Homo sapiens: one gene and its partner. The protein of the gene in region 1 purifies or fractionates together with the protein of each later gene. This does not show direct contact. Each region holds a gene or a part of one and is shown on either strand. Other genes may lie near its edges. The genes, in order: APOBEC3G and MOV10.

Region 1 (3,809 bases):
AATGGAGCAAAGGGTGAGCGAGTGGAAAGTAGGCATATGGTGGAGGCCTGGGGACAGTGACAATGATCGGAGAGGAGGGAGGGATGTGGGAGGTGGGAGAGAAAGGGAGGCTGTGAGAAGGAAAGGGAGGGACAGAGACAGGTGCCCTGGGGGAGCAGGGAACCCAGAGGAGGCTCTGAGCAGAGGGGAAGGCACGGCGCAGGGGAGAGGGGAGGAGGGGGAGGCCGATGGGGCACTGGGCAGAGGGAAGAAGCCCTCACCTGGAGAATGGCCCGCAGCCTCCCACTCAGGTCTTGGCTGTGCTCATCTAGTCCATCCCAGGGCTGGAAGGGACATCCCTGGTGGTCCACAAAGGTGTCCCAGCAGTGCTTAAATTCTGAAAAGGGACAGGGGAGATAAGTCACACTCCCGCTGTGGGATCGTGGTGGCACCAAAGGCCCATGACTCTCAAGACAGACTTCCCACATCCTGGTTTCAGTCCCTCCTTTCCCTCTCCCTCCCCTAGGGACTTAGCTCCTTCATCAGGCACTTCTTTCCTATTGGAATCTGGGCCAGCCCAGTTCTCATTTTTTCTGGAAGCCCCAAGTTCTGCTTCCACTTCCAGCCACCCTCCCCGCCCTCCCCAGGTCCACATCTCCTGGCCTGGCCTCTCTCTTCCCGTCGACCCCAAAGTCAGGTCCAGAGTGCAGCCATCGCCTCTGCAGGCAGAGGATCAAGGCCTTTCCCACAGGGATGCCGACCCTCCCCACTTTCTAGTAACTTCCCGGGGCCCTCTCCTGCCCTGGCTGACCCCATCCTACTCCAGGCTTCCATTCTCACCACTGTATGTCATTATTGAAATTTTGGCCCCAGCCTCGGCCAGGGTGCGCAGCCCCTCCTGACATCTTCCTTGATCATCATAGATGCGGGCAGTGAAGATGCACAGGCTCACGTGTTTGTTTTTTGAAATGAATTTAGCCATTTCCTGGGCACAGCTGAAGCAGGGGCTCCAGGAGGTGAAGCAGGTAACCCTGTAGTCCTGGTCCAGGTCCAGCTTCCAAAAGGGAATCACGTCCAGGAAGCACAGCTCTGCATGGCGGCCTTCAAGGAAACCGTGTTTATGTGGAGCCTAGAAAAGAAAGCAAGCCATGAGGTAATCTTTTTTTTTTTTGAGACAGAGTTTCACTCTTGTTGCCCAGGCTGGAGTGTACAAGTAGCTAGGATTACAGGCATGCACCACCACACCAGGCTAATTTTGTATTTCTAGTAGAAAAGGGGTTTCTCCATGTGGTTCAGGCTGGTCTCAAACTCCCAACCTCAGGTGATCTGCCCTCCTCAGCCTCCCAAAGTGCTGGGATTACAGGCATGAGCCACAGCGCCCGGCCGAGGGAATTTTTAGTGAGTCAGGAGGGACAGCCTGGATCAGGGTGGGTGCGGGGCAGCCTCCAGCACAAAATTAGACGGGGGCACCAAACCCCAGTTATCAAGATGACTTTTCTTTTCTTTTCCTTTCTTTTCTTTGAGACAGAGTCTGGTTCTGTCACTCAGGCTGGAGTGCAGTGGCGCCATCTTGGCTCACTGCAACCTCCACCTCCCGGGTTCAAGCGATTCTGGTGTCTCAGCCTCCCCAGTAACTGGGACTGCAGGCATGCACCACCACGCCTGGCTAATCTTTGTATTTTCAGTAGAGACGGGGTTTCACCATATTGGCCAGGCTTGTCTTGAACTCCTGACCTCAAGTGATCTGCCCGCCTCAGCCTCCCAAAGTGCTGAGACTACAGGCATGAGCCACCACACCTGACCGGATTTTTACAATAATCTATTAAATAATTTAATTTTCCATTACGATGAGATTTCTCTGATACTGAGTATTTGGAGCATCCTCTCATTCTGCACATGAGGTCAGTGCCTTCAGGACCCTCACTCCGCCCCAGGCCTGCAGGGAGGGGCTGTAGAGCTGGGGGAGGGAGGACAGATGCCACTGAGCTGCGTGTGCTTCCCTCATGGGGAGGCTGACCTGTCTACCCGTCAATTCCCCTTGCCCCACCCCTTCTGTGACCTATAATTCTAGAAGCTTCCACATTGTGCTTTACCCTGTATTAAGCCCACGAGTGACATAGACTGAGGCCAGAGGGCTCCCTTTGCAGGGAGAAGTGGGGATGAGGGGCCCCCAGCAGGACTAACCCCACATTGGGAAGGGCCCCAGTCATGGGGTGATTGTCCTTGTTGAGCCCAAGGAATGATGGTGTTTTGTCCAAATTTCGACTGGGAACTAGTCAAGCCCAGGAGTCCAGTGCAGAGAGGACTCGGGGTAGAATGGATGACACGATTTGTGCTGAGAAGGGGCTGTGGGTCATTCCTGGGGGAGTCCCATCCCACTGGTTAGACAGTGATGGGGACCGGTGCCTTTGAAAGTAGCTTCCAAGCAGTGTGTGTGGGCCCAGCAGGGCCCATATTAAGCTCATAGAGCCCAGAGGAACCCCGTTTCCAGCACCAGAGCCAAGCAGAATTTGGCCTCTCCAGCCAGGGGCTGTGCTGGGCAAGGGCGAGGGAAGAACGTCCCTCGGGCTCAGGGCCCCTCGGCCTGGCCTGGCCCAGCTCTTCTTCAAATGCTGGCCATCCCTGCATCCTGACTTGGGGCCTGTTCTGGCCTTGCTGTGGGCTCCATCCTGGTCAGGACAGAATCCCTGGTCGGCCTCTCCTGCCTCAGTCTCTTTTCCCGCAGGATGAAGCCCAGGAGCAGGCACTGGGGAATCCTGGCCTTGTGAGGTCAGGTAGGCCCTGATCCTCAAATCCCACAGTTCTGAATCATTCCTGGTGGGAGCTGTGTCTGTGAGGGGATCCTGGGAGGGTCCTCAGGAAGCACTTTTTTTTTTTTTCTTGAGACGGAGTCTCGCTCTGTTGCCCAGGTGGAGTGCAGTGGCACGATCTTGGCTCACTGCAAGCTCTGCCTCCCAGGTTCATGCCATTCTCCTGCCTCAGTCTCCTGAATAGCTGGGACTACAGGCGCCTGCCACCACACCTGGCTAATTTTTTGTATTTTTAATAGAGATGGGGTTTCACCGTGTTAGCCAGGATGGTCTTGATCTCCTGACCTTGTGATCGCCAGCCTCGGCCTCCCAAAGTGCTGGGATTACAGGCATGAGCCACCGTGCCCGGCCGGAAGCGCTTTTTCTTTGATCCCACTTGGCCCTGGTGCAGACCCTTTTCCTCTGCCCTGACCCTCTCAGAGCACAGCAGGAGTGGGGACGGCTGAGACCTGGACCTGGGGGTGACTCTGGACTAGTGGTGTTAGCCCCTGAGACATGTGGCTGGTTAGGCGTGTGGGGCTGGAAGCCACCAATCCTGGAGAGTCACTGAAGCCGAAGTCTCCCCCAACCCCAGGGCCAAGCAGCAGCAGCTACAGGAAGCACAGGTGACAGACACTCTGCAGGACACCACAGGTACCACCCAGAACCTTCTGCCCATGGGTGTCCCTGGGTTGGGAGGGCCCTGCCTGGATGCGGGTGGCTGGGTTGGTCACCTGGTTGCATAGAAAGCCCCTGCGCTGGTTCAGCAGGACCCAGGTGTCATTGTGCATGCGCTCCACCTCATAACACAGGTAAGTCTCATGCCGTCCTCTGACCCAAGGTTCATTGTTAAAGTTGAAAGTGAATGTGGGTGGATCCATCGAGTGTCTGGAAAGTGGGGGAAAAGCCCAGAGGAGTAAGAGCCCTCCTGGTCTGTCCCACCTCCCCCTCCCTCTCCACGCTTCCTCCCTTGCACCCCACCCTCCTTCCTTCCCCCGGCTCCCCACATCCCTTAGCACCTGTCAGAAGGGGCTCCCACTC
Region 2 (3,809 bases), on another chromosome or scaffold:
AGTGCTCCACAGCCACATTTACCCTAACTTCCCACTTCCCCAATCCCCACCCTTTTTTTTGAGACAGAGTCTCACTCTGTCACCCAGGATGGAGTGCAGTGGCACAATCGCACTGCAGCCTCAAGTGCCCAGCTATTTTTCATATTTTTCATAGAGATAGGGTCTTGCAATATTGTCCAGGCTGGTCTTGAACTCCTTGGGCTAGTCTTCCCCAAGTGCTGAGATTACAGGCATGAGCCACTGCACCCGGCCCCTACCTCTCTTTCTGATGGCTGCTTAGAAGCAGGAGCATTTCGGGAGTGGGAAGGAACTAGAATCTGGGGACAACTGCTTGGTGCTGGGGGAATCAGAGTGCAGGCCCCAGGTTTGTGCTCAGACCCCACCTGCTTAATTGCCTCCACTAACGTGACAGTCTTGCCGGTGCCTGGAGGCCCAAAGATGATGTAGGGGGCTGGACGGGTGGTGCCCGTAACAATGTGCCTCATGGCCTGCAGCTGCTCTGGGTTTGACTCCAGACTCCGGTCGTACAGCCTGGCAGAGGGACCAGGAATGTGAACTTGAAGTCATCCAGTGACCCAGAGGCCTCCCTGACTCCACCCCCTGTGCCCACACTCCAAGTGGCTCCAGAAGCTCCCTGCCCACAGTCTCACTTGAGTTTCACATCTGAGGGCAGCAGCGGGACGTCCCGAGGTGCCACAGGAAAGAGCATGGGCCACAGCAGCCAGCGCCCTGTCAGCTCCAGGGCACGGTGCTGGACTCGCAGCGGCTGGCGGTTGAAGGTAAAGTTCACCTTGAAGGTCAGCCCATCCACAAAGCGGCTCAGGAGGCTTTGGGCAGAGAGAGGTGGTAAGAGTTTGTTGGGGCAGGGGAGGTGGGCAATAAAGGGCCAGAACTTTCTCCACCAACCAGTGTCCCAACCCCTCTTTCCAAGACCTCTATGCAAGTTCTCTAGAAGAGGAAGCTGCCGTAGCATCTCAGGGTACCCCTGAGGAAAAGTCTCCTGCTCTGCCCCGGGGTCTCATTTATCTCAGGGAGAAACACTCCTCCTCCCCTGGGGTCAGAAGTCTGTAGACCCTTCCAGCAGCTCAGGGTTCCCCCAACACCCACCTCATGGAAAAGCTCAGCTTGACACGGTCCAATTCCACCTTGTGCACAAAGCCCTTATATGTGATGGGGTCCTCCTGGTGTGTCTCCGAGGACAAAAGGGCAAACAGGTGGTCGCCCCGTAGCACTGAGGGGCGGCTCTCAGTCACTCCAGGAACCTATGGGGTGTGAACACAAGCAAGCTTCTGTCCCAGGGATGGACGCTGGAGGGCCCAGCCCCCAGGTTCCCCAGACCTTTAAGGGACAAGGACTGAGACTGGCCTTCTAACCTAAGACTCAGGGAGTTATGCTATCCCTGCACCCCTCTTTCCTTTCATACCAGCAGGAGTCAGGGGAAGAGGAAGAAGACAAATCCTCCGAAGCTGCCCAGAGATGCCGAGCCCAGGAACCCGGAGCCTCCAGTGCAGCTGCCCTCTTGGCCAGCTCAGTTCCTGCTCTGCCTATAAAAATCCTGTTCATCAGTTAATCGGGTTGCTAAAAAAATAATTAAAAAAAAAAAAAAAAAAAAACGGACCAGGCATGGTGGCTCACGCCTGTAATCCCAGCACTTTGGGAGACTGAGGCAGGCGGATCACTTGAGTCCAGGTGTTGCGAGACCAGCCTGGCCAATGTGGCAAAACCCCATCTCTACAAAAAATACAAAAATTAGCCAGGCGTAGTGGGGCATGTCTGTGGTCCCAGCTACTTGGGAGGATCACTTGAGCCCGGGCGGCGGGGATTAAAGCGAGCCAAGATCATGCCATTGCACTCCAGCCTGAGCACCAGGGTGAGACCCTGTCTCAAAACAAAAACAACAACAACAAAAAACTTGTTCAAAACTCACTTCCTGCAGTAATCTTTCCTTGAACAAACTCACCCTCTAATTCCCACCTGCAATTGTGTGTAGAAATCCATTCTCGTGTGTAATTTTGGGCTTATATGCACACATTGAAAATCCAAGAGCCAGAAAGAGCTCTAAGAATTATCCAGTCCAGCTCTGTGCTTTTCAGATAAGGGAACTAAGGCTTAGAGAAAGCCAGGGACTTACCCAAGGTGGTAGCAAAGCCTGGACTAGAACCCAGATCTTCCCCATTTCCCTGCTCCAACACATCTTTGGGCACAGGATGCCCACCCTGCTTCTTGCGGAGCCCTGGGAACCACTTCAACTTTCCTCTTGTTCTGCCCTGCTGTCAGGAATAGTTCTGCCCACAGCCTCTAGCTTGGCTGGCTTGAGCCCACCCTCCTCACACTCAATCTGAGCCCTGACCTCCAGCGTGAGCAGCCTGGGGTTCTGGTCCACAGGGTCCCAGGTCATGGGCACCGACTCCAGGTCATAGTGCCGGATATCATGCTCCATCTGCAGTTCCTCCAGGTGCAGCAGCAGCCGCAGCTTCACCTCATAGTTCCTCCACTTCAGGGCTGTCTCCAGCTGGGCCCTGGAAATGATGGTTGGGAGGGGTGAGTGGGGGCAGGAACAGGATGGGCCAGACAACCCCTATGCCCAGGAGTATCCACCTTCTCCCACCTGAAGCTCTGGAACTAGCGTCAAAAAGCAGAGAAGACTAGAGGGATACAGAAGTGGATGAGAGTCAGAGGCCCTGAAGAAGGAAGCCTTGGCTCCTGCTTCCTTGGATGCCCCTGCCCCCACCTCACCCGACTTGCATTTGCATGGTGGCTCTTATGGCCAGAACATTCTCCTCCAATCCTCTCATGACTCCCACCCTCACCTCATTCAAATGTCCTTCTCTGTTCAAACATCACTACCTCAAACAGGCCAGGACTAACTGGCCTTCTGCAAAGCAGCACCAACCCATTCCCTAACCCTGCTTTAGTTTCAGTATAGTTCTGTTCATCTTTTTTAGAGACAAGATCTTGCTCTGTCACCCATGCTGGAGTGCAGTGGCATGATCTGGGCTCACTCACTGTGTCCTCAACCTCCTGGGCTCAAGAAATTCTCCCACCTCTGCCTCACAAGTAGCTGGGACTACAGACATGTGCCACCACACTTGGCTAATTAAAATTTTTTTTTGTAGAGACAGAATCTCACTATGTTGCCCCAGGCTGGTCTTGAACTCTTGGGCTTAAATGATCCACCTGCCTCGGCCTCCCAAAGTGCTGAGATTACAGGCATGAGCCACTTACACCTGACCTGTTTAGTTCTTCACAGCACTCATCACTCCATGAAATTGTAACAAAAATGCTCATTGTCCCCCATTAAAATGAGCCAGGCCTTCATTTGACTGGTTCACCTTGAATGGTGCTTGGTGTATGGTGCGTGCTCAGTAAGGGAATGAATGAATACAGCCTGGGAGGCTGAGGACGGAGGTGCCAGGGCAATGCAAAGAAGCCAGTAGGTAAAAGACGGGAGAGTGCGGGGTGCAGAGGGATGGTACTTACTTGATCTCTGCGATCTCCTTAGGGGCAGTGAAGATACTTGTTCCCTGAAGAAGCATGGGGAGCAGCTGCCTGAGGCGGGGAGGTGGGTAGTATGTCCCCAGCGCCATACTTAACTCCAGGTCATAGCCCTTAGCGCTGCAGAATCGAGGGAAGAAAACACAGAAAACCCCTCACCCTCCAACACTCTGAGAACGCCCCTCTGGGGTGGATGCACAAAGCCCTCCTGCAATCCTACTGCTGAAGGGAAGTCAGCAGCCTCGCTCCAAGGGTGGACTACTCTCATTTTTGGAACATGCGATACTTGGAAACCTTTAAAACTATTATCTAAG

The links.
Region 2: the proteins of APOBEC3G (region 1) and MOV10 purify together in Homo sapiens (affinity purification with western blotting, with the first as the bait; one study listed by BioGRID). This does not show direct contact.

Annotation. Positions count from the first base shown.
Region 1 is NC_000022.11:39,083,578-39,087,386, reverse strand, and holds part of APOBEC3G (DNA dC->dU-editing enzyme APOBEC-3G), read right to left. Parts: intron 3,657-3,809; coding exon 3,503-3,656; intron 1,109-3,502; coding exon 820-1,108; intron 377-819; coding exon 261-376; intron 1-260.
Region 2 is NC_000001.11:112,691,471-112,695,279, reverse strand, and holds part of MOV10 (helicase MOV-10), read right to left. Parts: intron 3,616-3,809; coding exon 3,481-3,615; intron 2,520-3,480; coding exon 2,351-2,519; intron 1,263-2,350; coding exon 1,108-1,262; intron 828-1,107; coding exon 651-827; intron 532-650; coding exon 384-531; intron 1-383.